Homo sapiens: one gene and its partners. The protein of the gene in region 2 purifies or fractionates together with the protein of the main gene of each other region. This does not show direct contact. Each region holds a gene or a part of one and is shown on either strand. Other genes may lie near its edges.

What was found.
Region 1: the proteins of RMP24 (region 2) and RPP38 purify together in Homo sapiens (co-immunoprecipitation; 3 studies listed by BioGRID and IntAct, with this or other methods). This does not show direct contact.
Region 3: the proteins of RMP24 (region 2) and RPP30 purify together in Homo sapiens (affinity purification with mass spectrometry; 2 studies listed by BioGRID and IntAct, with this or other methods). This does not show direct contact.
Region 4: the proteins of RMP24 (region 2) and RMP64 purify together in Homo sapiens (affinity purification with mass spectrometry; 2 studies listed by BioGRID and IntAct, with this or other methods). This does not show direct contact.

The regions. Positions count from the first base shown.
Region 1 is NC_000010.11:15,099,437-15,106,269, reverse strand, and holds the end of RPP38 (ribonuclease P protein subunit p38), read right to left. Parts: intron 4,053-6,833; 5' UTR 3,934-4,052; intron 2,966-3,933; 5' UTR 2,956-2,965; coding exon 2,104-2,955; 3' UTR 2,013-2,103; downstream 1-2,012. UniProt on the Homo sapiens protein: Component of ribonuclease P, a ribonucleoprotein complex that generates mature tRNA molecules by cleaving their 5'-ends. Also a component of the MRP ribonuclease complex, which cleaves pre-rRNA sequences.
Region 2 is NC_000018.10:35,974,230-35,980,759, forward strand, and holds the end of RMP24 (UPF0711 protein C18orf21), read left to right. Parts: intron 1-666; coding exon 667-866; intron 867-3,180; coding exon 3,181-3,371; intron 3,372-4,605; coding exon 4,606-4,777; 3' UTR 4,778-5,049; downstream 5,050-6,530.
Region 3 is NC_000010.11:90,881,351-90,890,780, reverse strand, and holds part of RPP30 (ribonuclease P protein subunit p30), read right to left. Parts: intron 4,970-9,430; coding exon 4,880-4,969; intron 1-4,879. UniProt on the Homo sapiens protein: Component of ribonuclease P, a ribonucleoprotein complex that generates mature tRNA molecules by cleaving their 5'-ends. Also a component of the MRP ribonuclease complex, which cleaves pre-rRNA sequences.
Region 4 is NC_000003.12:113,000,906-113,010,335, reverse strand, and holds the end of RMP64 (nucleolus and neural progenitor protein), read left to right. Parts: intron 1-1,905; coding exon 1,906-2,165; intron 2,166-4,305; coding exon of another isoform or gene 4,306-4,331; coding exon 4,332-4,800; 3' UTR 4,801-7,892; downstream 7,893-9,430. Other genes in the region: GTPBP8 (GTP-binding protein 8), read right to left, coding at 9,417-9,430. UniProt on the Homo sapiens protein: May play a role in cortex development as part of the Notch signaling pathway. Downstream of Notch may repress the expression of proneural genes and inhibit neuronal differentiation thereby maintaining neural progenitors.

The DNA of each region.
Region 1 (6,833 bases), on a different chromosome or scaffold from region 2:
TAATCCCTGCACTTTGGGAGGCCAAGGTGAGCAGATCACTTGAGGTCAGGAGTCTTGAGACCAGCCTGGCCAACATGGTGAAGCCCTATCTCTACTAAAATTACAAAAACTAGCCGGACATGGGGGTGTGCACCTGTAATCCCAGCTATTCAGGAGGCTGAGGCAGGAGAATCGCTTGAACCCAGGAGGCGGGGTTGCAGTGAGCCGGGATCACACCACTGCACTCCAGCCTGGGCAACAGAGTGAGACTCTATCTCGAAAGTAAAATAAATAACTGCAGCATTGCCAGTTGGAAACTTTGTCATGAGCTTACCTCACGGTGACAGTTACACTGCTCCTTTAAAGAGTCATTTACATAATTTGTTATCAAATTATTAACCACTTTTAAATAGAATAATAACTACATTTGCCTCCATAATTGAAGCAGATTACTAATTAACATTTTCGAGAATTAAACTGCTTGCTTATGAAGTAGCTATTAAAACTAAATTGAAATGCAATGGATAGTTTCTTGTAGATTTAAAACTGCATTGTACTGTACTTTGTCTATAATGAAAATGTTCTATTCAATAAGGTATCTTTTTTTCTTCTTTTTGGCCAAGATGGCACTAAGTAAAATTTAAATCGAGAGATGGCATAATCCATGAGTCAGCCAGACTTTCAGCTGGAAAAATCTTTAGTAAATACCTTCCTTCTAAATTACAGAAAGTAACTTTTCCATACACACTGTAAACAGCAGACACTCTAACAGAGCATCGGTTATGCTCCATCTCCTAACCTGAAGGACTCTTGTCACACACCCACCTCTGAGAACCCAAGCTCCTCAGTTTTTTTAATCTTTTGGCCACATTTCATCCAATTACCATCATACCTTTTATACGTTAGATTTCCAAGGAGGTAAGTGAATCACGTAATGGGGGTGAACTGTACCCAGTCAAAATAACCTTATCTGACTTTTTCTATATTTTTGATATTTTTTCTCTAAATATTAAGTCTTTCTCCCAAGCTCATGTCTATTCCTTCCTAAAAGTCAAATTGACATGAAGTGAAAAATGATGTGTTGCTTCTGAAGACAATGGATTGCTTGGCATTTGGGATCTTTCCTTTAAAACTGATAATGCTTCCCCAATTCAGTTCCATCTACCTGACTGACTAGAACATTTACTGTGGTACATTTTCCAGGTTTGATAGGAAAATGCTAAGCGTTGTATGACACAGATATTCTTGCTCACAGGCACTCTACCAGCCTTTGAAAAAGTCAATTTAGGCTGGACGCGGCTGCTCACGTCTGTCATCTCAGCACTTTGGGAGGACAAGGCAGGTGGATCACGAGGTCAGTTCGAGACCAGCCTGACCAACATGGTGAAACCCCATCTCTACTAAAAATACAAAAAAATGAGCTGGGTGTGGTGGTGGGCACCTGCAATCCCAGCTACTCAGGCGGCTGAGACAGGAGAATCGTTGAATCTGGGTGGTGGAGGGTGCAGTGAGCCGAGATTGCGCCGCTGCACTCCTGCCTTGGCGACAGAACGAAACTCTGTCTCAAAAAAAAAAAAAAAAAGGCCAGGCACGGTGGCTCGCAGCTGTAATCCTAGCACTTTGGGAGGCTGACGTGGGCAAATCACGAGGTCAAGAGACGGAAACCATCCTGGCCAACATGGTAAAACCCCGTGTCTACTAAAAATACAAAACTTAGCTAGGCATGGTGGTGCGCACCTGTAGTCCCAGATACTTGGGAAGCTGAGGCAGGAGAATTGCTTGAACCCGTGAGGAGGAGGTTGCAGTGAGCTGAGACCGCACCATTGCACTCCAGCCTGGACAACAAGAGTGAAACTGTCTCAAAAAAAAAAAAAAGAAAAAGAAAAAGTCAATTTACACACGCATGAACACTAGTTTCAATAAATGTCTGTTTGGCTATTCCTAATTTTGAATATTTCCTGCACTTAGTATATCTGTGCCATAGTTACAAAGAGTCTTACACATTTGAATATTACCAAACAGGACCCTATGAATCTATGTAAGTATAACTCATTTTATTAGTTTCAAGGCTTCTTTACAAGGTGTCCTTTCACAAACTGTATGACATGACAAGTTTATGCAAGATTACTTTGGAGTAGCTTTTTTACTTTTGGGTGGTTTCCTTATCTTATTAGGGTTTGGAATCAGTTTCTTTATTTTAAGGGGTTGTAATGTTACAGAAGCCTGCCGACCGTCAGCAAGCTTTCTCTTAGGTTTTGACAGATCTTCAAATGAAGTGTCCAAAAGCTCTCTGTCTTGGCTTTCCAGAGGTTCAGTCTCTAAATTTTCCCCAGAATCTTCAATTCTGTCTTGAAGCCATGGTACACTTAAACTGGGGACTCTGGGGATGATGGCTCTTACTTCGTCCACAAAGTCAGTGGTGTTCTTTTTGAACGCCAAGGCTAGAACACATTTTAAGCCAATGACGGGGGCGATTCTCTCACTGAGCCGGGGGACCTGACAGGCAGGGACACTTCTGCTTAGGCTTAACTGAATCAAGTGTGAGGTGATCATGGCAGGCTTGACTGATTTACACACCAGAACTAACAGCAGTTCCCTCCTTTCCAGGGCTCTGGTAACTTCGTTAACGCCAATGGCAAGCTGCTTCCTGACGTGTGCAGGCGTCCACCCTGACACTTGCTGCTTAGCATCTGTTTTCTTCTCCTTCAGATTCTCACTAATATCAACAGCAATGCTGCATTTCTCTCTGCTTTCTTTTTTCAGAAAAGGTGTTTTGTTCTTTTTCTTCTTATCTTCAATCTTCTGAAGTCCAATAGCTTTAAGCCTGTCCTCAAGCGTCTGTAGGATGAAGTGCATATCCTCGCTCTCCAGAGCGCTCCAGCGGATGATGTATGGGTTGTTCAACGACGTCTTCACAACCAGAGGTCTCGTCTTACGGAGAGATCCCCGCCCCGGTGCTTGAGGAGCTGCAGCCATTTTGAAAATCCTTCCAAGAAGCAAAATGACAACAGAAAAAATTCATGTTAGCGACAACTGCATGACTTAAGAATATCTTGACTGTACTCTCTGATTCTTATTTATTTATGTATTTATTTTTTGAGACAGAATTTCACTCTTGTTGCCCAGGCTGGAGTGCAGTGGCACAATCTCAGCTCACTGCAACCTCCACCTCCTGGGTTCAAGCGATTCTCCTGCCTCAGCCTCCCGAGTAGCTGGGATTACAGGCGCCCGCCACCAAGCCCAGCTAATGTTTCTATTTTTTTTTAGTAGAGACAGGGTTTCACCATGTTGCCCAGGCTGGTCTCAAACTCCTGACCTCAGGTGATCCACCCACCTCGGCCTCCCAAAGTGCTGGGATTACAGGCATGAGCCACTGCGCCCGGCCTGTACTCTGATTCTGGATAAGCTAGAGCAAGCCTGATTATATAAGTCCAATTAGGTGAGCATACGCTTGTCTTCCTTTTAAAGATTAAGTAATTTTATTTTTCCCCATTTTTCTTACCCGATTTTGAATGCTCTACGAAGGCTCTTTAAAATACTCAGGACTATGGGTGAGTAGTGTTTAATTTTCCCCATTTTTTTATATGACTTTGTCTTTATTCCTATACAAGCAATATGTGAAAGTTTTAATTATTGCAATCATAGTACAATTCCATTTGTCTATTTCATTTATTAAAAATATTCTGTTTCTACTTGTTCATAATTAACCTTCTAGTGACTGTATGGTATTAATCTTCTAACTTGTTACTGTTTTCCAAAATGCTATCTAGTTGGGCTTCCATGCATTCACTCAACAAATATTCTAGGCCTGGCACACTGGCTCATGCCTTCAGTCTCAGAATTTCGGGAGGCTGTGGTGGACAGATCACTTCAGCCCATGAGTTCGAGACCACTCTGAGCAAATGGAGAAACCCTCTACAAAAAATACATAAATTAGCTAAGTGTGAGGCGTACCTGTAGTCCCAGCTACTTGGGAGGCTGAGGTGGGAAGATCACTTGAGCCCAGGAGGTCAAGGATGCAGTGAGCGTGATTGTGCCACCACACTCCAGCCCAGTAACACATCTGACCCTGTCTGCAAAAAAAAAAAAAAAAAAATGATCTGAGCACCTCCAGTATGCAAGTGGTGTTCTAGGTCCTGGGGCTCACAGTAAGCAAGACCCGATGTCCACCCACGTAGAGCTCCCAATCTGCAAATACTCTGGTGGCCTCTGCCATTCACAACCAATCAGGTGTGATATTTTAAAGAACTGAACAGTCATCTCATGATTAAAACTTCAAATAACACTGTCACGTCCACTTTTGTAAGTCTCCCCACCTCCCAGGGCCCTAAATTTCTTGAATATCCTTCCTACAGCATTTGATACATATGCAGGCATACACTCCCTTTTTTTTGTTTTTTGAGACGGAGTTTTGCTCTTGTTGCCTAGGCTGGAGTGCAATGGCATGATCTCAGCTTATTGCAACCTCTGCCTCCCAGATTCAAGCGATTCTCCTGCCACAGCCTCCGGAGTAGCTGGGATTATAGGTGCCCAACACCACGCCTGGCTAATTTTTGTATTTTTAGTAGAGATGGGGTTCACCATGTTGGCCAGGCGGGTCTCGAACTCCTGACCTCAGGTGATTCACCCACCTCAGCTTCCCAGAGTGCTGGGATTACAGGAACGAGCCACCACTCCCGGCCAGTCCTCCTTTTTAGGGGGACCCCGAGCTGACTTCTCTGGCTGGCAATTCCATGAAGACTAGGGAAATGTAATGAAATTTAAAGATACTAATCCATTGAGGAAAAATGAGTAGAAGGATGCTTAATGGGGAAAATGTTATAAACTATTGGTCCAGAGGGCATATCCTTTTATCCTTCCCAGAGGCAACTACACACTCCCTTCTCTTCCCTCAGTTTTCTTCCCTTCCTTCCTGGGGCTCAGCTAGAATCACAGGGACCCACCTGGCAAAACTAAAGGAAGTTATATCCTTTGCATTTATACTACCACTTACTAGGCTGGCAGCTGATGTTGAAGGCAAGTGTGTCTGTGCAGTGTATCGCTGTATAAAGCACTCTCTCCATGTATTATTTGCTTCTTACAGCATTCCTATAGAATCCCCCAATGTGTGCATTAGGAAACTGACTCACTGCCTAAAGTCACAACTAGTTTTCCAAATCCAAGTTTTCTGTTCTTTCAATCCTTGCTACACCTCAAAAATAACCTGTGGCTTCTTAAAACATGCAGATGCTTGGTCCTCAACCCAGATCTACTGAATTGGAATCTTCAATAATAAGGCCTGGGCATCTGTGCTTATAAAAAGCTGCCCCAGGCCGGGTGCAGTGGCTCACGCCAGTAACCAAAGCACATTGGGAGCCCAAGGCGGGCGGATCATAAGGTCAGGAGTTCGAGACCAGCCTGGCCAATATGGCGAAATCCCGTCTCTACTAAAAAATACAAAAAAATTAGCCAGGCATGGTGGTGCCTGCCTGTAATCCCAGCTACTTGGAGGCTGAGGCAGGAGAATCTCTTGAATCCAGGAGACGGAGGTTGTAGTGAGTCAAGATCGCGCCACTGCATTCTAGCCTGGGCGACAGCAAGACTCCATATCAAAAAAAAAAAAAAAGTTGCCCTCGTGAATCTGATTCAGAGCCGGAATCAGGAACCACTGGTGTAGGACAGGGTGTTTCCACACTGGACAGCCCCGAGAAAGGGCCCCCTGAGCGCTATTGGTCTCTGATATTCTTCCCAGACACTTTCCCACAGAAAAGCCAAATTCAGCTCCTTAGGGTGAGAGATCACACCCTGGTCATCTCGGTACAGCAATCCTGGAGACTTCTGGGGCCTAAGCTGCTTCCTTCACGGTGGCCACACTGTGTCCCCTGACCCCATTATCTCTATGCTCCCCTAGAGCTCAGGAAATCAGGAAGAAAAGTGGCTCATCCAGATGCAATGCAGTGACTGTGAGGGGCTGGCATCAGGTTCAAAGTGGTCAGGAAGAGGGAAATAAGTGACAGGGGGTGAAACAAATAGGATGGGGCAGAGCTCTTGCCAACTGCAAGTCAGATGATGTCTCCACATCCAAACACCACAGAATAAATACTTAAAATCATGCTCCAGAGGGATCACAAAACAGGCTATAAACTTGTCCCACCTGCAGAATCTGCTGGGGCGATAAAGAGAGCCAAGTAGTCTGGATAAGCATAATCTCACGCAATATAATCCAGAAACAAAGTACTGACTGATAAGATTTTATAGCTTTAGAGAAAGAGAGAAAAATAGGCTTTGCTGAGGGCCCTTTAGAGCTGTCTCAAGAGGCCTCTGCTGCCTGTAGATCAAGGGCAAACTCTTTTTACTAGACAGTCTTGCCCTGTCACCTGGCAGTAGTGCAGTCGTTCGATCATGGCTCACTGCAGCCTTGAACTTCTGGGTTCAAGCAATCCTCCCACCTCAGCCTCATGCTGAATAGCTGGGATTATAGGCGCATACCACCAAGCCCAGAAAATTTTTTTAATTTTTAAATTTTCTGTATAGGCTGGGCACGGTGGCTCACACCTGTAATCCCAGCACTTTGGGAGGACAAGCTGGACAGATCACTTGAGGTCAGGAGTTCGAGACCAGCCTGGCAAATATGGTGAAACCCAGTCTCTACTAAAAATACAAAAATTAGCCAGGAGTGCTGGTGCACACCTGTAATCCCAGCTACTTAGGTGGGTGGCTGAGGTAGGGGAATTGCTTGAACCCAGAAGGCGGAGGCTGCAATGAGCCGTAATTGCACCACTGTGCTCCAGCCTGGGCAATGGAGTAAGACTCCGTCTTAAAAAAAAAAAAAAAAGAAATTCTATAGAGACAAGGTCTTGCTTTGTTGCCTGGGC
Region 2 (6,530 bases):
TTCTATTCCCCCCTCCTATCTTACTTTTTTATTCCCAGCACTTAACATTTGACGTTGTTATATTTATTGTATGCCTCGGTGAATTGTCCTTTGTTCACTGCTGTGTCTCCAGCACTTAGAACAGTGCCTGGCATTCTTAATTGTCACTTAGTGAATATGAATGAGTTTCACATTTGGCAGAGCTAAGTTTAAGTGTGGTCTTTAGCTTTATAAGTGCTGTTGCATCCCTGGCACTTAGCACAGTGCTCAACAGTAGATACTATTCATTGTGCTAATTATTTAAAAAAAGAAACAAAATCGCAGTGCAATTTGTTATTTTGTGGTAAATGCATTGGTAAAATTGGTGAAACATAACAGCCTTTTAAAACTTAGTAGCAAGTAATGAGAAGTGGCTAGATTTAGGATATATTTTAAAGCCTACAGGATTTGCTAGCATAGGTTGGAGATTTGCCTATCTGTTGCTGAAAGGAGTGAATGGATGGAATTGTAGTATTTTGCAAGGTAAATTACTGCCAATTTATCTTTTTGTAAATTTTCATATTTTGAGTTTACTTAATGTGTATCTGCTTATATTAAATTTCAATATACTTTTTATAAATGTTGACAGTTTGAGGTAACAAAATATTCTGATTTGCTGAATTGTGAGTTTCATTTGTATAATTTTAGATGATAAGAGCACTTTTGAAGAAACGTGTCCATACTGTTTCCAGCTGTTGGTTCTGGATAACTCTCGAGTGCGTCTCAAACCCAAAGCCAGGTTGACACCCAAAATACAGAAACTTCTTAATCGAGAAGCGAGAAACTATACACTCAGTTTTAAAGAAGCAAAAATGGTGAAAAAGTTCAAAGACTCCAAAAGTGTATTGGTAAGATTTCAGTTCCAGTATGTATGAGTAAACTAGAATTTTCTTTTCTTTCACTTAAAATCAGTTTAAGAATCAGCCTCAGTATAACTCAGAGATTTATAGTAGTATATTTGGATTATCAAAATATATACATAAACACTTCTCTAATGATTAGTGTTTCATTATAAGGACAGCTTACTTTTATTTTTCATGATTACCTAAACCAAACATGGTGAGCTCTCAATTGTTTTGAGATCCCATTGTTGAGCATTATTTTTCACAAATGTGCGGATTTCTTGAACTGACCGTTATGGCTCCACCTAAATTGCAGTTACCACTACATTATTTTTTCAGTTAATGCTCCTTTGCTTCAGATAGTACTATGTTATGTATGTAGGTATCATGTCACTTCTTCAGCTGTCCTCCCACTCCATGTCAGAGTGGATTTACAGGTATGCCCAACAAAGGTGAATGCATCTTTTGTTCTTTCAACATTTTATTGAGGGTCTATCATATGCCAAGCAACATTTAATATTGGGGATATAAGATGGAATAAAACAACCAAAATCAGATTACGTACGGTTTACTATATGGAGGCCAGTAGCAAATACACTTTATATCCCTGCATATTTTATGTTAACATTTATCAACTGTTCAAGTGCCTGCTTATTGTCTATCACTGTGCCGGGCACTGGACATTATGACAGCTTATGTCTGGCCTAAGACTATAATTAGCAATTACTTGGATTGAAAATTGTCATATTTAGGAGTTTACCAGTGTTGGTCAGGTAGGTGCATTTTGCTTTGTCATAAAATTGAATGGTTAAAGGGAAAGAAAGAAGAGATAGAATATTGAAGTGAGTATGGAATTCGGTTTCTTAGTTCTTGGAGAATTGTATTTTTCAAAAATCATTACTGCCACATATTTGGAAAATGTTCTTAAATGGGAAGACAGCAAATGCTGCCTCACTATCTTGCAGTGTTTTGCCCTCATGAAGCTTACATTCTAATGTATTTTAATCAGAAGTCAGCTAGAAAGGTGCTAGAGGTATTTGTTTTTCTGATTTTTTTTTTTTTTTTTTTTTTTTTTTTTGAGACGGAGTCTCCCTCTGTCGCCCAGGCTGGAGTGTAGTGGCGTGATCTCGGTTCACTGCAAGCCCCACCTCCTGGGTTCACGCCATTCTCCTGCCTCAGCCTCCTGAGTAGCTGGGACTACAGGTGCCCACCACCACGCCCGGCTGATTTATTTTAACCTGTATACAGCCTCCTTCCAAAAAGTGTAAAGCAACATAGACCTTTGATAGATGCAGATCTTCCATTGGCATTTTCATCTGCTCATGAACATCAAACTACTTCTCACTTAAACTAGTTTGTATTAATTTGCCGAGGCATGGGCTGAGTCCTGTGCACAGTCAATTAGATATGTAGAAGAAAGGAAATTAGCTAGAAAATGGACCATTTCTTGAGAAATGAATCTTGAAAAGAAAGACAACCTCTAGAGCTAATGATGGGAGTGGAGAGGTGTGAGAGTATAACAACTCATTTGGTTGTATAAGTTACTTTAGACCTATGTTTACAAAATTGCTAAGGATTTGAAGGGGCTACTTAAATTTCCAGTGATACTGTGCCATGTTGTTTTTGGGAAGAGGCTTGAAGTTCATCTGCAAAAAAATATTAAATGCTTACTGCTGTTACAAAGAACATTCCTCCAGATGTTAAAGAGTATTATCTCCCATCTCTTCCCAAATTCCCACCAAACATGGTTTTATATTTAAAAAGTAGAGTTCATTATCTTTGAAAACCTATTTTAAATTAAATACAAATGTTTAGCCATTCATTTTTATTGAACATTTTCTCATTTAAAATTTGTCGGCTGGGCACAGTGACTCAAGCCTGTAATCCCAGCATTTTGGGAGGCCGAGGCGGGTGGATCGCCTGAGGTCAGGAGTTCAAGACCAGGCTGGCCAACATGGCGAAACCCTGCCTACTAAAAATACAGAATTAGCCAGGCACAGTGGAAGGCGCCTGGTCTCAGCTACATGGGAGGCTGAGGCAGGAGGATCACTTGAACCCAGGAGGCAGAGGTTGCAGTGAGCTGAGATCACGCCACTGCACTCCAGCCTGGGGACAGAGCAAGACTCCGTCTCAAAAAAAAAAAAATGTCTTGTCTGATTCTCGCTACTAGATTGCAAGTTCCCCAAGGACAGCCTCTATTTTACTTACCCCTATAGTATCTGGTGTAGTCCCTGACATTTAAGAATTCAATGAACCTGTGGTTTATGGGGTTAAATTATAAGATAAATGACGGGACTGATATTTCTTATTTTTATGGTAGTTGATCACTTGTAAAACATGCAACAGAACAGTGAAACATCATGGTAAAAGTAGAAGCTTTGTGTCAACATTGAAGAGCAATCCTGCCACTCCTACAAGTAAACTCAGCCTGAAGACACCAGAGAGAAGGACTGCAAACCCAAATCATGACATGTCTGGCTCGAAAGGCAAGAGCCCAGCATCGGTTTTCAGGTATCTTAATCCATGAAGTTTTTGAATTGCCAGTGTTAAGTGTTTTCTTCTAATTTCCTGTGTTTAATATATACTCCCTAAATATGCCATGCATTTCAGGACTTGGCCATTTTTCCTCCATACCCTTTTCTAATGTCACATACTCCCATATCTTCAATGCTCATTTCAATGCATTTGACTTCTAGGTATGTTACTCTACTTCCAACATCTCCTGTGCCTATTTCCAGCTGCCTGCTAAATATAACCACTTCAGTCCCCTACATGTTCAAAACTTAGTTCATCATTGCCCCACAGCTAACCACTCAAACCTGTCCATCCTCCTGAGTTCCTTATTCTGTGAATGAACACACCTTTCTGGACATTTTGACCTAAAATGACAGGTACATTCAAAAATCCCTATTCCCTTGGTCCTTGTCACCGATTTCTATATATCCTACTTCCCTGTTTTCATCTTTTTGCTCCTTTTTCTCCATAGTGCTGCTATATTCTGGTTCAGGTCCTTATGCACCATTTGTCAGGACTACTGCAGTGATTTTCCTCATGGGTCTCCCTGCTTCTAGGATCAAACTCTTTTAGTGTGATCATCTTTCTGGAGCATAGCTCTGATTAGAAGCATCACTGTGTAGCATATGGATAAATGCTCTAGCATGGCTTTCCAGCCCTATCTGGCACCAGTCTGTCTGCCTGTCTTTCTTTGCCTTAAATCATCCTATGTGCCAACAAAACTGAACCATTCACGGCCGGGCATGGTGGCTCACACCTGTAATCCCAGCACTTTGGGAGGCTGAGGTGGGCGGCTCAGGAGTTCAAGACCAGCCTGTGCAACACGGTGAAATCCCATCTCTACTAAAATACAAAAGATTAGCCAGGCGTAGCGGCGTGCGCCTGTAGTCCCAGCTATTTGGGAGGCTGAGGCGGGAGAACTGCTTGAACCTGGGAGGCAGAGGTTGCAGTGAGCTGAGATGGCGCCACTGCACTCCAGCCTGGGCGACAGAGCGAGACTCCGTCTCCAAAAAAAAAAATACTGAACCATTCATAATACACTTTCTTGCCCTAAACATTTGTTCTTGCCCTTTTCTCTGTCAGAAATTCCTGAGGAAATCTAACTGAACAGGGATTTGTCAAATGATAATACACCGAGGATAGCCAGTGCATGTATATGGCCATAATACAAAAGAGTAGAAAATGATTGTCATTTGTTGGTATAACTAAGTGTGGTTTTGTTTCTTTTCAGAACACCTACATCTGGACAGTCAGTATCTACTTGCTCCTCAAAGAACACCAGCAAAACAAAGAAACACTTCTCTCAACTAAAAATGTTACTTAGTCAGAATGAATCCCAAAAGATTCCAAAGGTGGACTTCAGAAATTTCTTATCTTCTCTGAAGGGTGGACTTTTAAAATAAGAAATGCCTGATGTCAATTCTGAAACTAAAGTTGGTAAAACAACTTTTTAAACTCTTATTCATTTTTTGAATACATGGAAACTAGATCTGAATGCAAACTTTTCTTGGCATCCTTCAGTGTTTATGGGGAAAATACCTCATTAGTGTGAATACCTGAAACCTGCCTACCTCATAGGACAGCTGTGAGGATCAAAAAATATATGAAAGTTCCTTGTAGATACATATCTATAGATATATATGTGTATGTATATAAAGATAGATATATACATTGAGTAGTGGCATTACTGTTTTTTCTTCCTTTAGTCAGCAGTTTTTATTTATGTTATTGTCTTTCAAAAGGAAATTGAGATCTTTATGAGAGGGTCTATTCACTCAAGGGTTTCTTCCATGTGTCTATAGCATTGTTGATAATTCAGGAATAGGATCAAGTGGGTCCTTATTTTCTCACAATTATCTGCATAACTATCTTAGTAAAACCTGAACCTTATTCCTATTTTGATTGCAAAAGTAAATATCTGGAACATTCCTGATTATAGATCACTCAATAGGAAACTAAAATTTTCTTTCTTAGAAAAGGAAACATACTGTTGGTGATACTATAAATTAGTACAGCAACTTTGGAAAACAGTATGGAGGTTCCTCAAAAAACTAAAGGTAGAATTACCATATGATCCCATATCTGCATATATATCCAAAGGAATTGAAATCAGTATGTCAAAGAGATGTCTGCCCTACAGTGTTTCATTGTAGGATTATTCACAATAACCAAGATATGAAAACAACAGAAATGCTTGTCAAAGGATGGATTTTTGTAAATGTGTATATACACAATGGAATACTATTCAGCCTTTAAAAAGCAAGAAATTCTGTCAGTTATGATAACATGGATGAACCTAGCGGACATTATGCTAAGTGAAATAAGCCAGACACAGAGAGACAAATACTGTATTATTTACATGGGATCTAAAAAAGTAGAGCTCATAGAAGTAGAGGATATAATAGTGATTACTGGAGGCTGTGGTTGGGGGAGGGGAAATTTCAATTAAGAGGAATAAGTTCTATGATCTCTTGTACAGCATGATGACTCTAGTTAATGTATATTTCAAAATAGCTGAAAGAGGATTTTTGGCCTTTTTTTTTTTTTTTTTTTTTTTTTTAAGAGACAGAGTCTTGCTCTGTCATCTGGGCTGGAGTGCTATAGCATGATTATAGATCACTGTAGCCTTGAACTCCTGGGCTCAAGTGATCCTGTTGCCTCAGCCTCCAGAATAGCTGGAACTACAGACACACACCACTGCACCTGGCTAATATTTTATTTTAATTTTTTTCATTTCCCACTATAAGAAGCCATAATTTTTTTTATTTTTTGTAGAGGCAGGATCTTACTTTGTTGCCCAGGCTTGTCTTGAATTCCTGGCTTCAAGCAATCCTCCTAACTCAACCTCCCAAAGTGCTACGATTACAGGTGTGAGCCACAGTGCCCAGCCAAAAGAGGGTTTTTTAATGTTCTCGCCACAAAGAAATGATAAATGTTTGAGGTGATGGATCTATTAATTAGCCTGATTGGATTACACCAGTGTATACATGTAATGAAACATCACATTGTGTCCCATAAATATATACAATTATTATTTGTCTTTTTTTTTTTTTTTTTGAGACGGAGTCTCACTCTGTCACCTGGGCTGGAGTGCAGTGGTGCAATCTTGTCTCACTGCAGCCTCCACCTCCTGGGTTCAAGCAATTCTCCTGCCTC
Region 3 (9,430 bases), on a different chromosome or scaffold from region 2:
TAAGGGAATAAGCATTTTGTCTATGACATGAGTGAAAATTTTCCATCAGTTTGTCATCTGTCTTTTAACCTTGTTTCTGGTGTTGTTTGCATTTTTTTTTTCCACAGAAATTTTTAATACTGGCACAATTTGCTGGCACTGAATGGACACAGTACTTAACACATTAGATTCATGTGTGATAAAACAAAGTTTACAGAACACTCACATCCAAATCAAGTATTTATAGCATGATTCATGGAACTACCTCACTGTTTAGATACTACTTACTAAACATCTCTCAGTGGGGAGTAATCGGACCACGAAGACAGAAATGGATTAGGGTTAAAGGAAGGACTGAGGGGAAAACATCAGAGAGAGTGTAAAACATATAAGATCCCTTAAAATAACTCAATAAGCTTGAAGTCATTGTTAAGTGACAATAACATTGAAATGGAAATAACATTGTAAAAAAATCAAAGGGAAAGTAAAGAGATACGTGCTGTTTTAAGAACATCCTTCTTCTCACAACCTGAATTCATAAAGCTCATGTTTTAAAATATGAAATTACTCTGTGCTTAACAAAGAGTTCTGCTGTAAAGTAACTTTAAAAAGCATTTCCCAGTAGGAAATAACAGCAGATTTGGAATCAAAGCTTGAGTACAAATCCCTTGTCAACCCCTTGAGAGAGTCATTTAACTGTGTGAACCATGAACTACCTAAGATTCTACTGTATTACCTGCATATGGAGATAATTAACATCTACCCCATCCCAAAACTGCTGGGCCAAAGCAGGTATCAAACTGCTTATGTCATAAAATGCTAAATAATCTGAAGTCATGTGATTATTCAAGAAAAGGAGTGGAATCCAATTTTTTAGAAACACATCTATCACATGACAGAAATGCGATGACAAGTTACTTAGACTCCAGAAGAGGTTTGTGGGAGATTTTAGAGGAAATTGCATAATTGAAATTATGGTGCCCTAAGCATACAGTGAAGATGACAAAAGGGAAAAGAGCTGCAAAGTACACAAATGGAGTGTTTGGTATGCTATAGAGCTCCTGGGCCCTCCTTCACAATCCCAACCTTCCAAGCTGATGATTCTCACATGGCATCTGGCCTATTGGTAAAAGATGAATGATTTACCTTTCTTAATACTGCTTTTCACCACAACCAAAGAAAAGGGCCCACATCGTGACAAAATTAAGATCTGTGCTTAATTTAAAGTATCCTGGCCGAGGCGGGTGGATCACTTGAGGTCAGGAGTTCAAAACCAGCCTGGCCAACATGATGAAACCCCAACTCTATTAAAAATAAAAAAAAAATTAGCCAGCTGTGGTGGCGGATGTCTGTAATCCCAGCTACTTGGGAGGCTGAGACAGGAGAATTGCTTGAACTGAGGAGGCGGAGGCTGCAGTGAGCCGAGATCACACCACTGCACTCCAGCGTGGGTGGACAGAGCGAGACTCTGTCTCAAAAAAAAAAAAAAAAAAAAAAGTAATCCTTATAAAGTGATCCTTTTAAAGCCAATCTATGAACTTCTCAAGGCCAAAAACAAGTTTACACTCAAAGCCAAGGGAACATGCAAGGACCAAGACTGTGCTCTCACAATGTATACATTTCCATACTTTATGTAGACAAACAGCTCCACAGCCAGACTGGATATTATGTTACAAATAATACATACATACCTATGCCACAACTATTATTTACTCTGAACAACAAGCTAGACACCTGTATGTTTCCAACTTTCTCTCTTTAATAAAAAATAGGTGAATAAATTAACAGGGACTCTTCTGCTTCCTGACCAATTCACAGTGCAGCCTACTCTTCTACTAGATGAAGACTAAAAATAATCTTGTGCAGCCTTTCTTTCCACTCCATCATCTAGTTTTTATTAAACAACATATGCAAAATGTTCACACCAGATTTTTTTTAAAGCAGACACCATGTTAAACTGCATATCCCTCTCACTTGACAGAATTTTTTACTTTTCAGAATTCTTAAATTGAAAAATGTAGGAATTAAGCGAAAAATGCCCATCAAACGAAAGGAGCTTTCCTGAACTTCCCAATGGAATCAGGGGGTGGGGTGTCCTGGTGTCAACTGTCTTGAGTGCCACTGTCCTCCTCATGTTGCCCCACTGCCCCACTTCCCTCACGGCATATACTTCCTGATGAATGTGGACATCCAGCTGGTGACTAACAACGAGCAGAATTTGGCCAGGTCCCCTATGCTGTACCCTGATATGCTAAGTTCAACATGTACTTATTGACTCAACAAACTGTAAGGAGGACTCATTATACGCAAGATAGTGGAGTACTTAAAAAAGGACCATGACAGCCGGTGTTCTCTAGGAGCTCACACTCTGGTTTAAATAATAATACAAGTTCCTAAGAACCCCAATTAAAAGCTCTCACCAAAGCAGCCACTGGGAATCTTACCACTGTCGTGAGACATGAGGAATTATCTGTTGTGCATTGCTGTCCATTCCATGGACTTGGCCTTAACATCACATGCTAGCTCCTCCCATCAAAGGTCACAGTATCGTATGTGGGCTTATTCAGGCAAAGCCATCTAGAAAATGACCTTCCTAGTTCATTAAGATGAAGAAAAAGGTGAAAAAGTTGCAAGTTCACTAGCAATTTGCTGAGTAGCTATAGTGCCCAACTCTGGGGGTGCTACTTCCACAGAAACTGTATTGGCAGTTTGAGGCTGGTAAAAAGGTTAGGCAAACTTCTAAAGACAGAGATTGCTACCTCTGGAGAGAAACAATATGTGAGGCCAACAAGACTGCCATAACCTTGAGTACTGTATTAATTTGTGGCTTTTATCATAGGTACCTGGGGCACATCAGAGATCTTGACAGACAACCAATCAGAACTTTCCTAACCCTGTGTGACTACAGAACTGAATGACTTCTTGTAGTTTTTCATTTCCCCACATTTGACAAATGAACTGTTGCACAACATAGATTTCCAACTCGAAAATGTGGTGATTCAGTGGTTTTTCACTGTTTACTTATTTATTTATAAGTACTGGCAATAACACAAGGAACCAATGATTTGAGCTCAGCCAATATTGTTATGTTCACTAGTACTGTCAATATTTACCCTAGGCCGGGTGTGGTGGCTCACGCCTGTAATCCCAGCATTTGGCGAGGCTGAGGCGGGCGGATCACAAGGTCAGGAATTTGAGACCAGCCTGGCCAACATGGTAAAACCCCATCTCTACTAAAAAGAAATACAAAAATTAGCCGGACATGGTGGTGTGCACCTGTAATCCCAGCTACTCAGGAGGCTGGGGCAGGAGAATTGCTTGAACCAGGGAGGTGGAGGTGGAAGTGAGCCGAGATCGTGCCACTGTACTCCAGCCTGGGTGACAGCAAGACTCCGTCTCAAAAAAAAAAAAAAAATTTACCCAACAAGAGCTTTTATGTTTTTCCCTTGAAATATATGATGATATATTTTTAGTTTGAGTAGCATATTTTTAGGGGTAGAACATAAGCTAACTTAAACTTTTCCCCATTGGGTGGGTCAGGCATGGTGGCTCATGCCTGTAAGCTGAGCACTTTGGGAGGCTGAGGTGGGAGGATTGCTTGAGCCCAGGAGTTTGAGACCAGCCTGGGAAACATGGTGAGACCTCAACTTTACAAAACATAAAAAAATTAGCCAGGTGTGGTGGCATGCACCTGTAGTCCCAATTGCTCAGGAGGCTGAGGTAGGAGGATCACTTGATCCCAGGAAGTTGAGGCTGCAGTGAGCTATGATCATGCCACTGCACTCTAGCTTGGGCAATAGAGTGACACCCTGTCTCTACTACTACTACTACTACTACTAATAATTTTTGCCACACTGAATTTTCACATACTAATTTTCCATTTTCTCCTCTTACTGTCTCCCTCTAATTCTCAAGCCAATTCCTTAGCACCAAAGAGAATTAAAATTGAGAAAGTTATGATTCTACAGAGGCAAAAGAGCAAGGGAATTATCCTTTGAAAAACTTAAAAAAAATTAATCTTCTGATTCTGACAGGATTGGATATGTAATTTTGACTGTATTTGCTAAACTCTTTTTTTTCTCCTTGGATACCAGTTTTTGAGAACAGGAGACTAGGGTTTTGGAAGCCACTACTCTAAAATAGCATCTGAACTCCTCCTAGGATCTGACTGGCAAAGCAAATAGTTAACAGCTGTGCTGACCTTTTGCTACTAAAATAGTTACTGGTGTGAAATAATATTACCTTATGATGGAAATGGGAGGAAATTAAGACAGAAGAAGGAATGGACAGATAGAAGATGAAGGGTATGGGAAAACAAGAGAAAACTATGTAGAAGGGGAATGAGAAAAATTCTATAGCAGAGGGAGAAACAAAAAAGTTTTCTGAACACATGGCCATCCTATTAGGTTCATATAAAAGTAACTCTGGGCTCTTTGTGAATAAGCATGCTTCAACACAGATTTTAATTTTGCATAGACCACGTCTATGTGATGCCATGCCCTGTTCCCTCTTGACTCTCTTTAGCTTCCTGGTGCCTCAAGGATCCTCTGCTTTTTATTTTTTCCCTTCCTCTTCTTTTTTGACTGCTCTGTTCCCTTAATAATTGATGTTCAGGTTATAAGTACCCATGATTATTAGCTATCCTCTTAAGAAATATCCTTTATAAATTTTGGGTTCTATGGCCTTTTAAAAACATCTTAATAATTAACTGGATATTTTTAATTTTAAGCTTTCTTTCTCCCTTTGTTCAGCTTTCAAAACGAAAATTCTCTTTTCTAAAACTGCCTCCTATTCCCTAGCCTTTGTTTTTCCTTCTAAGAACACTGATTTCTTCTGCTTCTTTTCCAATTTGCTAATGTAAGTTTCTAAGATTCAAATACAGAATGGAAAGTACACTTACCACATTAATAGGAGGTCTTTTGAAGTAAAATGGTAGTTTCTCTGTTACAGTTATGCAGACTAAATCCACATCTAAATGTGTGCAAGCAATCTGTAAAGAAGAAAAAAATAGGTAAGGCCAAAAGGAAAATTGGCACAAGTAAGAATGGGAGATAGGGTCAAACTCGATATAAAGTATGGTTCACTCCATAGGTGTTTTGATGGTTCTGTGTTGAAATACATCTGACCTTTTACAAAGTCAACTGTTTTGCTACTCTTTTAGGTTTGGTTTAAATGGTTTAACTGTAATCCAGCAAAAGCGGAATATGTCCACAGACTTTCTCAAAAGATAGGGCCTGGAGACTCTCTAACTCATATGGTCTTCTACATAAGGATGGGTTGCAGAGCGAGGCTCAGTTTCTGGAAGGTTACTTCAGACTGTCCCAGAAAGAAGAAACTGACTATTCTAAAACCCAAGGAAAAAATAAGCCAAATGGAATGTATGCATAGTCCATTTATCCCACACACTATTTATTGAGCAACTCTGTGCCAAGAATTGTCCCAGGGCTGTGGCTCCTATCAAGTCTACTGAGTAGCTAAAGAAATATGAACACAGCACCTCATGACATTTGTTCAAATACTAATAGAAGGAATCTACATAAATAGTTAAAGCAGAGCTACTACAAAGCAAATGATAATGAATGCATTTTCTCAACTTTTAATTTCCCTTTCTGTTGTTTTAATTTTTGCTATGACTTGTTGAGTAATACTCTGCATTTTCTTCTCAAAGAGATTTGAAACTGTTTATGAAAACCACATACAAGATAAAATAAACAGATAAGAAAATCAGGATAAATGGAAAATCAGGGAAGAAAAATAAAGCTGGGAAAAGGTTACTAGTGTAGAGGGCAAGCCAGAAGACACTGCTGGAAGAAACATACCTGGCTCTGATTTTGCCATTATTTGATTTATAGTGATAAAAATATTTGGCTGTTATGTATTACATTAAAAACAAAGCTTACTGACAATGCTAGTGTGTACAGGCTTGACAGACAAATTCAAACTTCCAGGATGGCTACGCTGACAAACAACATCAGTGGCATGTACCAGGGGAAAGGGCAGAGTAAGGAAGAGTGGAGAAAATGACCTATAGGATTGGTGCCAACCTTCGGCAATGACAGGAATACCGTATCTTGCCCTTTTTCTTCAGAATCCCCACTTCAGTCACTCCTACTCCAACCCCAGGGCTTTAGGAAGTAGAGATCAGAGGCTGGCTAGCTTTAAGACAGTCATAGTAACTTAGTAAGCCTGGGAAGCAATGTTGTTTTGGCAGAAATACTTGGCTCATAAAGAATCTGCCCCATCCCAACTGCCACAGCTGTCCAACTCATAAAAGAGTCACTGAAAATTTAATAAGAGTGGATGAAGAAAAGCTCTGAATGATAGCTGAAACAAATTCAGCTCTGTTCACCATTTTTTATCGATCATACTGGCAAAGATAAAAAAGTTTGGTACTACCTTGCTGACATGAGAATGAATGAACAGGCACTCAAAAGGTCTTTAAATCAGTATAAGGTCTTGAAAAGCATTTTAGCAATGGCTACCAAAATTTTAAATGCACACACCAACAATTCTACTTATAGGTATGTAGTAGGTATAAGTGGAGTCTCCTATAGAGAAGTCTCTATAAGTGCAGAGACTCTAAAAATATATTACGTAGCTATATACCCTACAAAGGCTCAGGGGACATTAGTACAATGACAGTCATTGCAATACCAATCATGAAAGACTAGACACAATTAAACATCCCTCAATTTTACTTCAATTATGATCCCTTTATATGATGGAATATGCCAACTCATTAAAGGAAATGATGTACATCTCTAATGGATATTATGGAACAACCTCTAAGAAACTGTAAGGTAAAAGAAGCATGGTGTTAGGTAGGAAGGAAAGAGGAAGGGAGAAAGGGGAGAACAAAGGAAAAAAAGACGAGGTAAATAATATTTCTAAAAAGATACACAAAAACTATTACTAGTGGTTGCTTCTGGAAAAAATGGGGAAGGAATTTTAGGTGGAAGTAAGGCATACTTTTCAGTACCTTTGTACTGTTTAAATTAATCATTGTGAATGTAAATTATTTCTTCAGTTTAAAAAGGTGATTAATTCTTTAAAAGCCTGTTAAACATTCTCCCCAGAATAAAGCTAAATTAGGTTACTTTTTACTTACACATTGTTCCTTTCTTCCCTTTTCCTACATAAGAGTGGCCAATTAAACAATGGCTCTATGTTGGTTTAAGTACGTGCAAATACATGCATTATAATAAACTTTTAGTTACAAGGGACAGCTCCACATGGCTCCCTCTGACACTTCAACCTTAGAATGCCCCAAACTGAATTATTTTGTTATTTAGTTTTCTATTAACCAAAATGTTCAATCAATACTTTTAGATAACCACAAAATAAAAGTTAATGTTCACACTACAATGAAACGCTTTCTATATCATTTTAGAAGATTAAATTATGCCCAATAGAGCCTTGGGGTTAAGAATCTTATAATGGTTTTCTCTGAAAACTAGTAGGTTACATAATAATTCACATCAGTTGTCCATACCAATTTTTTTTTTTTTTTTTGGCCAGAGACTCCTATGACAATTTAAAGAAAACGTATTCCCATAAAAATGCACACATATATACACATCTTTGCCTCTATGGCACAAAAGGAATAGGACTGTAGGGGTTCATATTCCTCCCTGAATCCCTTTCAAAGGTATCAGTTTGATAAATTGTGAAGAGACAATCAGGCTTACCAAGGAAAAAGAGAGATGCCCATCAACAGTGGCACTCAACTTTAATGTGTACAAAACTCCCCTAAAGAATGTATCAAAAATGGAGACAACCAGGCCCTACCTCCATTGATTCATTAAGTATGGCCTAATGATCTGCATTTTAATAAATATCCCAGGTAATTCTAAAGCCAGTGGAGCCAGACCATACTGCAAGTAACACCAGGACACTCCCTTCCTCAAGACACTACAACAGTCCTCTGCAAAGGAAAGGCATGAATTTCAGGAGCAGGAAGAAAATAAAACTTTTATTTCCATTTACTTTTATTTTTTAAAAATAGAGACAGGGTCTCACTATGTTGCCCAGGCTGGTCTTGAACTCCTGGCCTCAAGTGGTCATCCTGCCTCGGCCTCCCAAAGTCCTGGAATTACAGGCACAAGGCACTGGATCCAGCCTCCATTTACTTTTTTCTTTGAGACGGAGTCTTGCTCTGTCATCCAGGTTGCAGTGCTGTGGTGCAATCTTGGCTCACTGCAAGCTCCGTCTCCCGGGTTCACACCATTCTCCTGCCTCAGCCTCCTGAGTAGCTGGGACTACAGGTGCCCGCCACCATGCCTGGCTAATTTTTTGAATTTTTAGTGGAGTCGGGGTTTCACCGTGTTAGCCAGGATGGCCTCTCGTGATCTGCCTGCCTCGGCCTCCCAAAGTGCTAGGATTACAGGCGTGAGCCACCATGCCTGGCCCATTTAATTTTTAATTCACTATCTTAAGATCTGTTTTGTGTGTATGTAGTTTTTATAAGGCACACTGGTATAATGAGAGATGCGAATAATTTATAAGAAACATATATATATTTGGAAGCAGGCTCAAAAATTTTTTAAACTGATAGGGTGCACAATCAAAGCAGGTTAGAGACCACTGGACTAAATAACCTGAATTCTCCTCAACCTGCTCAGCTGCTTTAAATCCTAAATGGGAATAATTAATTGGTCCAGAAGCTCCAGAAGCTTCTATGCAACTCTCTCTCTGTGTCATATTCCACAGCTGTCCCCCATCCCAAGGAGCCCTAACCAATGGACCCCCTCAAAATCTTTAATCTCTGCCTTATCTCCTTAAGTAGCTATGGAGAGGGAGTTTCTATGAGACATCTTCCGGATACTCTGAGTAGAAAATATAATGGTATATTATGTCCCATGGAAATGATGCTATTTAAGATGGTTCGATTTTATACTACTATTGACATAAACATGTGTCTGTCTGTGTGTGTATGCTTGATGACTCATCTTGGAGACCTAACTTAGTTTTAGAATACCATACCTACAGAGATAGATACCTGTTAGAATTCTAGATAATCAACTTACAAACAAAATAAATAAAATCACTTGTAGAATGTAACTTAAGACACAAACTGCTTGCATTTGACCTGATTCCAAACCATGATATACCTATAAAAGCTTTAAAAGAAAGATGTCTTTTAAAATTGATTTCCTATAGAAAACAAGGAGAACTCTAATTTCAATTTAATCTTAAGGAATGGGTAATATTTGGATAGAGAAGAGGAAGATGTTCCCATTTTTAAAACTGCGTTCTCATTTAACTTTTTGAGTATATGTGTAAAGTCAATACTTTGTGCTTTCTTCCATCTTCCAAAGTATTTTTGACAGGCCCATCTACTATCATCAAGCATGTGTTCACCAAATTCAAACTTTAAGTCTGAGAAAAACAGTAAGATAAACAAGTAAAACTATTATATGAAATTACAACATAGTCTAAAACCCAAAGTCCT
Region 4 (9,430 bases), on a different chromosome or scaffold from region 2:
CAGTTGGTTTGAATCCTGGCTTTGGTACTAGCTGTGTGACCTTCTGTGAGTTTCCTGATCTCTCCGTACCTCTATTTTGTAATAGTAATATGTGCCTCATAGGGTTGTGCTAGTTTTAATGCATGTAAAGCGTTCGGTAGTCTGGAGTATGGTAAGCATTTAATTGGAGTTAGATGTTATTAGCTACGGTCATTTTGGTCATCATCCTCATCATTTTGTCATGAAGCTATTCCTTTACTCCTGTTGAGGTTCAAGTTTTAACATGATTGATTAATGTCTGTAAATTCTGTTTGTTCTGGACCTAACAGCATATAAGTACATCGGCATTACTGTTTTACTCAGTAACTTGACTTTTTTTTTTTTTTAACCCTGTCTTTGCAAAATGTCTACTTCTGGTATTTTTCATGGGTTAGTTTACTTCTTTTATTTAAGAATTCTTAAACATATTTTCTTGAACTTAAGGACTCCAGCTTCCATTGATGTTCTGTCCAATTTATGAATTCAGAGTGAGGAGTAATACTTTCTGTGCCAGGCATTGTTCTAAGTGCTTTTATATGCATGAAGTCATGTAATTATATCACAAAAGCTCTGTGAGGTGGGCATGCTTATTACTGTTTTCATATTTCAGATGAGGAAACTGAGGCATAGAAAGGCCAAGAAACTGCCAGGCCACATAGTGAATAAATGGTAGAGCTGCGATTTGAATGCAGGCAGTATGGTTTCATAGTCTTTCTTCTTTACTATTCACCAGTCCCCAGAACAGTTTTTCAACTGTATCTCAAGAACTATGGTGCTTTGTGAACCTTGAAACTTCTGCAGCCTGTGCACCTGTTTGTAGGTGAGCTGGCTTTGAAGTTGGTGGGTCAGCATCCCTCTTACTCAAAACTAACTGCTACTATATTTTTAGCAAATAGCACTAACTTGCTTAGCTTTAAAGCAAACTACTTCTATTGATCACCAAACATAAACTATTGACCTGGGTCATTACTTTTATATTTTCTACTTTTTTTTAAAGTTCCTTTTGAGTGTAAGAAATTTGGAAGAAGGTAAGCTTTGAATGAAAGAGCAGATCATCTCGTAGGCAGCATATTTTCATAAAGAAATAGTAAACGTTAGTAAAATCCAAATGTGACTTGATATAGAAAGAAGGGGTTGAAGAAGTAAAGGTGCCTTGTCAGAAGATGGTTGAAGTAGAATTGGAAGTGTTGCTCAATTGAGCATTTTTAATAGATATTCAGCAGGCATTAACTGATTAATGGGCTTATTCTGCTGGGCACTCTGCAGGGCCCCATATCTTCCCTGTTTTCAGAAACATTTCTAAATTGAGGAGGTTTGCCCAGGATACGGAAATAAGTGAAAAACAAGTCGTGATAATCTGGTGGTGTAGCGAAGAGGGGCCTTTCAGTGATCCCCCAACCCTCTGCAATTAGGCTTTGACCAGTATTTAATCATGTGGGGTTTTTTTATTGTGTATGTGAGATATGTGTGTTAGGATATTTATGTTAACTTTCCTATGTCAATCTAATTCAGCTGCAGATGGGACCTGTCCTGGTACAGAGGGGGAACAAAACAACTTGTATTTGGAGCAGTGGAGAAAAATTCAGTTTTTAAAGACATAAGGAAAGCTTAGTGAGCAAAAAAATTTCCTTACAGACTGATTTTTTTTTTTTAATTTTTAGGTTTTGTGGGTACGTAGCAGGTATATATATTTATGGGGTACGTATTTTGTTATAAGCATATAGTGCATAATAACCACAGGGTAAATGGGGTATCCATCACTTCAAGCATTTAGGGACTGATAATTCTAATTTTTAAATTTTGATTGTGAGCTAGCTTTCCTTGTTGTCATATAATTACAAGTCAGTAACATGTCCAATATATTTTTCTCATCTTTCCACGTTTCAGGAGACCAGTTTTGATTTTAAATGTTCTCAATCCAGACTAAAGACAACCAAGTATTCTTCTCAGAAAGTGATAGGAACTCCTCATGCCAAAAGTTTTGTGCAAAGATTCCGAGAGGCTGAGTCCTTCACACAACTTTCTGAAGAAATCCAGATGGCAGTTGTATGGTGCAGGAGCAAAAAACTCAAGGCTCAGGCCATTTTTCTGGGTAACAAACTTCTTAAAAGCAACCGGCTTAAACATCTGGAAGCTCAAGGTACTAGGTAGGTATATTGCAAAAATTATGTTACTTTACTTTTTCTGTTGTTGTTATGAGTAAAAGTATTCAGGTCACTTTTCTTTAAAATGTGATGTCCAGCAGCCGCAGCGGGGCTAAATTGGGATGTACTCAAACTGCAATTGCATTTGCTGCTTTTATTGTAAGAGCAAAGCTGTATCATTGGAGGAAGAAGATAAACAAGTTAATTGGACTTCAGTCCCCGTTATGCTCTTCATCATTTCCATCAGCTCATTCAGGAACCATTAAGAGTGTCTAGTGTGCTGAGCCTGAGGATACAACTGCATAAAGACGTGACTTGGTCTTCAGGGAGCTCAGGGTCTTCTGGGAAAGGCAGCCCTTCTGCAGACAGCTTCAGTGCAGTGCAGTGGGATAAGGGCATGAGAGCAGAAGCAGAAGGTGCCTGCCTTCCATGAGGCCCACACAAGACTGCTGGGGTGTTGTACTGTTGCTACTTGCTACTGTTTGTAGCAGCTGGACTCTATCTATATTTCTTTTCTGTGATTTTTATATTCACAACTGTTTAAGGGTGCTTATCTTTGCTTGTGAACCAGTATTGCATGAAGTATTACATGAATTTAGACATTAGACACTTCAGGGCTTAACGGTAATGATTTCAGACACAAATATGTATTAAGAGCCTATTCCACCTTCACAGAGGCAATTATTCTGACCTGTTTTTTATTGTATTCTTTAACAAATATCCTGTGCATGCCCCATAATTTCTTATCCATAGTTTAGAGCTATTCAGGGATTTAAAGTTCATTCCTGGGGATGAACCACGTATTGAAAATTTGTTAAATTTTCTTTTAAAATTTGCATAAAATATATTCCTGTTTTAGAAAAAAAAAAGTATACAGTGAGGGTTTTGTAACACATTTTGATTAAAAGCTATGGGGAAAGTGGTTGAATATTCCTGAGGGATAAAGTGCTTGAGGGGTTTTTACATTGAGATGGCTCCTCTAAAGGTCTGTAATAATCTAAAAGTGATGTATCCTATGGCTGGAGACGCAGCCTGAGATGGAGAGAAGCATTCTGTTTAAAATTGGGTTTAAAATCAAGGGTAGATGAGGCAGAGGTAACAACTAAAAGTTAATGAGAAGGGTAGCAAACTGGTGTTTATTGGTTAAACCATTACTCAGTACTCCCCCAGATATAGTGCTCCTTCATAGATTGCCCTGTTTTGCTGTTTCATTAATATATTTGTAGTAAACTTTATAATTTATTTAATGTCCATAATAACATTGTGAGGTAGACAGTATTATTCCCATTTCATAGATGGGTAAATGGAGGATTTTGCTCAAGGGGTTAGATGTGGAACTCAGTTCAGGCCCTCTGTTTTCCTTTCAACTCTGAAGTACACCCACCTTCTCCCCACTTAAAAGCCACTGCTTATAGTGAGATAAGAAAATGGTATGGAAGCAAAGATCATGATTTACTTTATTATAATGGGCTTCCTCAAAGTTTTATATCCATGCCCGTCTTTTAAAATCTATCACAAACAGTGAAACAATTCAGCAAGGCACTGATGAACCTTGTGGCAGTGTACCGTGTGTGGAAGCAAAACACCTAAAATGATCAGCTGTTTGATTTCTGAATTTCCAAACTTGAAGATGACATATGAATCATAATTAGGGTAGCTTAAGGCTGTCTGTGTATCTGGGCCAGAAGCCCTGTCTTCATATTGTTTTATAAACCCCTCTTAGCCTTTATTCCTTTTTCCTTGTTCATTTCCTGCCACAGCATGAAGCTGATTATCCAGATTCGGATTAATACGTACTGGCAGATTTTTTCATTTGTGATGTTTCCTCATGTCCACTCATTACATTATGAACAGATTAGCAGTTATGAGGGAAAAGCTCTGACACTAAAGTATAGGGTATCTCGCCATTCAGCTAATTGCTAGGCGGCTGTACTTTTGAGAGTTTGAAAGCAAAATGGGGACACATTCGTCTACACTTCAATCAGAGGGCATTTGTGCTCTCAAAAAACAGACTTGGGGTGAAATTTTTCGATGTGGTTCTGGGATTGTACACAGGCATAGGACTTGTAGATAAGTTGTGTATTTTTCTTTTCAGTTGGTAAATTAAAAGTGCTTGAGAATGTTTTTCTCATCTTAAGCCCAGATTTTTCCTCTCTCTGTCTTTTAAAGTTTGCCAAAGAAACTAGAGTGCATAAAAACGTCTATTTGCAACCACCTTCTTCGTGGCTCAGGTATCAAAACTTCAAAGCATCATCTGAGACAGAGAAGATCACAGAATAAATTTTTACGGAGACAAAGGAAACCACAGAGAAAGTTGCAGTCGACTCTTTTAAGGGAAATTCAGCAGTTCTCTCAAGGGACTCGGAAGAGTGCTACAGATACCAGTGCTAAGTGGAGACTCTCACACTGTACTGTGCATAGAACTGATCTCTACCCTAACAGTAAGCAGCTCTTGAATAGTGGAGTTTCAATGCCTGTCATACAAACTAAGGAGAAAATGATTCATGAAAATCTTAGAGGCATCCATGAAAATGAAACTGATTCGTGGACGGTGATGCAAATAAATAAAAACAGTACATCAGGAACCATTAAGGAGACAGATGACATTGATGATATTTTTGCTTTAATGGGAGTTTAGATGTTCGTTCATATGTGAGACTTTTAAGTGATTAACAAGGCTAGTTCAGTGTTCTAAGTAGAACTGCTAAGATCTGGAAGTACCACCTGGACTCACAGAGGAGCTGCTTTAGTGCAGCATTGCACAGGAGTTCATTTCAGTTCAGTCTACATTTAAAGTAGCATTGTGTCATTTCATCAACAAGTATTTCTTTTTTGGCTTCAACTACATGTCAGGTGTTAATATGAAAAATCTGCCACAGCCTACCCTTGAGAAGCAGATGTAATTCCTTGAGTGAGGCTAGTAAGTCTCTGAAAAACTGAATAATTTTATGACTTACTAGGCAATTTAATAATCGTTTGCAAAAACCATTGTGTCTTGAGGTAAATGAGGAGCGGGGGTGGGAGATAGCAAGGAAACACCTGAAAGGTCAATTTGGTCTTATTGGCTCCATTATACATAGGTCCGCCTCTGAATACTAAAGTTTGTAGCTCCTGACATTTATGTTTTCTTGTTTATATGTTGGAATTGATCAACAAGGTTTGCCACTGCTTGTATTACCAGGGACTGGTTACAACCATTATTTCTCTTCATTTGCTTGGCTTATCTCATATTAAAGTGAGTTTGGAGTTCTCCAAAACGTTTTAATTTTATTTATTTGGGTACCAGTGATTGATTCCAAATAAACCTTTTTACAAAAAGGCAATAAGGTGGTTTATGGTTACATATGAAATATAATAGGATAACAGGTAGATGAGAAAGTAAAATGAAAAAATGAGGTTAGGAGATACAAAGTAGACCCAGGAATGAGGCTAGAACATTTATAATTTGGTGTTGATGCTGTCATCTGATAGGGGATGTTGCTCGTACTGTTGCTCTGAGGGGAGTACATCTTGAGTATTTTCAAATAATGATGTGAAGTTTGAGGTAGGTATCTTTCCAATGTTCTAACTTTACTAGAATTAGGTTATTAAGCTTCTCTAGTGCCCTTAACTTTTGTTACATAGAGATTTAAAGAAAAAGAAAGTAGTACCTTAGTATGTACCGCATCCTTCTTTTCCTCAGCCACCCTATCATAACAGAAGTTATTTCCCTTCCATTCTTTATTTGGCTTTGTTCTTTCCCTGTCTGCCTTCTCCATTTTCTCAGTTATCTCTACCAGTGGTTCTCAAACTTTAGACTTTTTGAGAATCACCTGGTGGGTTGCTAAAAGATGCAGATTAGCCCTTTCCCAGAGACTGATAAACAGGGGCCAGAAACCTGCATTTTTAACATGGAGCCCAAGTGATTTTGATCCAGGTGGCCCCCAAATCCAGTTATATAAACACTACTTTAGCTTCTCTCCTGAAGCCTTAAGTAAACTGGTTTAATTCTTAATCTGTAGTCAGTTTTCATATTCCTTTTGGCTTTCTACCAAGTGGTAGTATCCATTTAGTGCCTTAAAATACAGACAATACCAAGGAGATTTCATTCTAGACAAGTCTAGAAATGGCCATTAACTTCTAAGTGTCCTTGTGTTCAATGAATATCCTTTACCTATTGGGAAATAGAAGGTAAATTAGTAAGAGAACTGGTGTATAGCTTTGTGGACCATAGGGCTTATTTGCTGAGAGTTGTCTATATTCATGCACCCAGTCCCCTAAGTAGCCTCTTTTAATACTTCATTTAGCTGATTCAGAAAAAAACTCCCTGGGAATTAGGAGATTTAAGGTTCAGTCTTGCTTCTCCTACTTGTGGCTTCACTGAGCTAGTCAGTTTCCTCAGGCTTAGGTTTCTGGATTTGAAGTGGAATTTTTTCAAGAATGAAACTTTTATAGCTGAAATAAACTTTGGAGCTTATCTTTCATTGGAAAAACCAGGGTGGTTCAGTGAGTTAAGGACAATATAGCATGGACTGGGCTGCCAGTCTAGCATTTGTTTCCAAATTCATTCATGTTCTTTTGGAGTATCTTCATCTCCTCTCATTTTCCCATCTTCTGCCCTTTACTATTCTGGGAAAATGGCAAAAAAGCTTCACATGTGTCCACAAAATGACAATTTGTATGTTTATAAGGAATTCAGTATTCTGTATCAGTTACTTTTTCCAAATAAATCCAAATATTTAACATTTAAAAAAATGCAATCTAAAGTATACCAAACTGTAACTTACCTAGTAAATGAGATTAGAAACTATTGTCAGGGTCATCGTAGTGAATTATTATTATTATTATTTTTTGAGACAGAGTCTTGTGCTGTTGCCCAGGCTGGAGCACAGTGGTATGATCTCAGTTCACTGCACCCTCCACCTCCTGGGCTCAAGCTATTCTCCCACCTCAGCCGCCTGAGTAGCTGACACTATAGGCACCACCATGCCCTGGCTAATTTTTTAAAAACTTTGTGTAGAGATAGGGTTTCACCATGTTGCTTAGGCTGGTCTCAAACTCCTGGACTCAAGGGATCCACCCACTTTGGTCTCCCAAAGTGCTGGGATTACCCACATCCTAGTACCAACTTTATCACTTCTGATGGCATTAGGACACACAGGCCATTTATAAGAGCAGTGTTTGAGACCTCCTGTGTGTCACTTCCAATCCTCTTGGCCTTCATACTAAAGTCACTGCTGTGGCAACCAGTTTCAAGCAGGGCTGAACCTTGCCTCTTGCTCTGGGGATGTCTCACTTCCTGCCCCTGGGCTTCTCACCAGCTACAGGAACTGCCTAGCACTTGGGTATGTACAACCTGGAAGAGGTGTGGGGCCACCCCATCCCCTCCTCAAAGAAATTCACAGGCACAGTATGAGGCTAAAGTAACTTCCATCTTGGATGCTAATCTACCATGTTGACTTCTGATAACCAGTTCCTGGAATGCCCTCTAAGATTTCTACTTTTATCTATTAAAAGAACACACACACACACACACACTGTAAATCCTGGCCTTAAGCAAGTTATAGGCTAAGTTGTAAACAGCATTCTTGCCTTTCCCTGAGGAGGTGACTTCAGTGTCTCACATGTTCCTTCATGTACCCCCTTTTCTCTATGGCATATAAGCCCTGGGTCGGGGGGTAACTGTGGGGATCACTGCCTGAGACATGGCTTCTGTGCATAAGTCCCTATTAAATGTTTCTTTCTGACAAACTGGATTTGTTGGCCTCTTTCTTTGGCATCTCAGCACTCTCAGCCTTTGGGGGTAGGTTGCATAGACCTGGTCACTATACAACACATATTTCCTAGGACTTGTCACAAGTTCCCTCAAGATCTAGCACTAGTGCCTATGTTTTGGCTAACTCAATGAATATGTTGTTAATAGGCTTGTCTGTCTTGTTTCATTTTGCCACTGTTCCCTGGGATCACTTCCCAAATTTACATATGTAAGCTTTTGGCTCAGGCTCTGCTTATAGGAGAACCAAGGATAAATCAAAGCAGTGAAGTAACACTGGCAGACAAAAAGATGACTTCTAAGATAATTCTTTTGTTACTATATATTTTATGAATGTCTATATTAAAAAATCTTTTTTTTGGCTGAAAACATTCCTGCTTAGATTAGACCAATTCTGTCAACTATAAAACTGACAATATATTCAGATTGTTTTCTAAAGAAAAGCCACGAAGTTGGTTTATAGCTTTAATTTGTTATCCAGCAATACAGCTATAACCTTTTAATATTAAGCTTCACTTTGAAAACCTAAGCCACTTACATGAATAGGTTAGTGGCACCTTCACAAAAATCTTCTCTATTAACTTTAGTTCAAAGGCTTTATTTTTCCATTCTGAATCTTAAATGTAGCAGTCTAAACTGTCCCATCAGCTTTTTTCTCTTGCCCTTTACAAATTAGTTTTCTCACTTAAAGCTATTTTTGTTTTTTGCTTTTTCACTAGTGAAAATGTTACTTCCCCCATGAAAGGACATTTCTTGTAATAAATCTACCTGTGAATTTTGCTATATTTCTTTGTTGGTTTGGCTTTACAAATATGTAGCTGTCTTCTCACATGTTACCTGCTGTAAAACCATTCATTTGAATCTTAATAGCTTTCACGTTTACAGTAACAAATGAATTTCCGAGAAATCAAGTAAGTTGCCCAAGATCCAACATATATAATAAACATCAGAACTAGAACTTGAATTCTGTTCTTTCGGTTGTTTCCAACATGGACTAACACATTTTATCAAGAATGTTTTCAATATTCAAATAAGGACTCAAAAAAATAGGCTTACATAGTAACTTTTATCCATCAACTTACCTATCGATGCTTAACAGAAAAGCAGCCCCCTTTTACCTAGCCCATTTTAACATTTAAAAAAAAAATACCCATAGTAGACATATTCTTTAAAAGACAAAAGCCCAATAAAACGTCAAACCCTTCTGTACATAGTTGTAACAGGTTTTCATTTTATGGATGTGCTCTTGTCAGTTTGTTAAAATAGGGGAATCAGCTAGTAGCTGTTCTAATGAACACCATAATTCAATAACTTACAAACTTTTTTCACCTCAGGCACAAATTCTTGTTTCGAGAAGGCACAGGTTTTAAAGCTCAAGTGATCCTCCTGAAGTTACAGATGCACAACATTTAAAACAATGTTGAAATTCTTCTAGGTATTTAACTCCAGTTAGCATAAAGCTTTTTTTTTTTTTTTTGAATCTTCAGCTAAACCGGGAACCATTAGTCAAGACTTC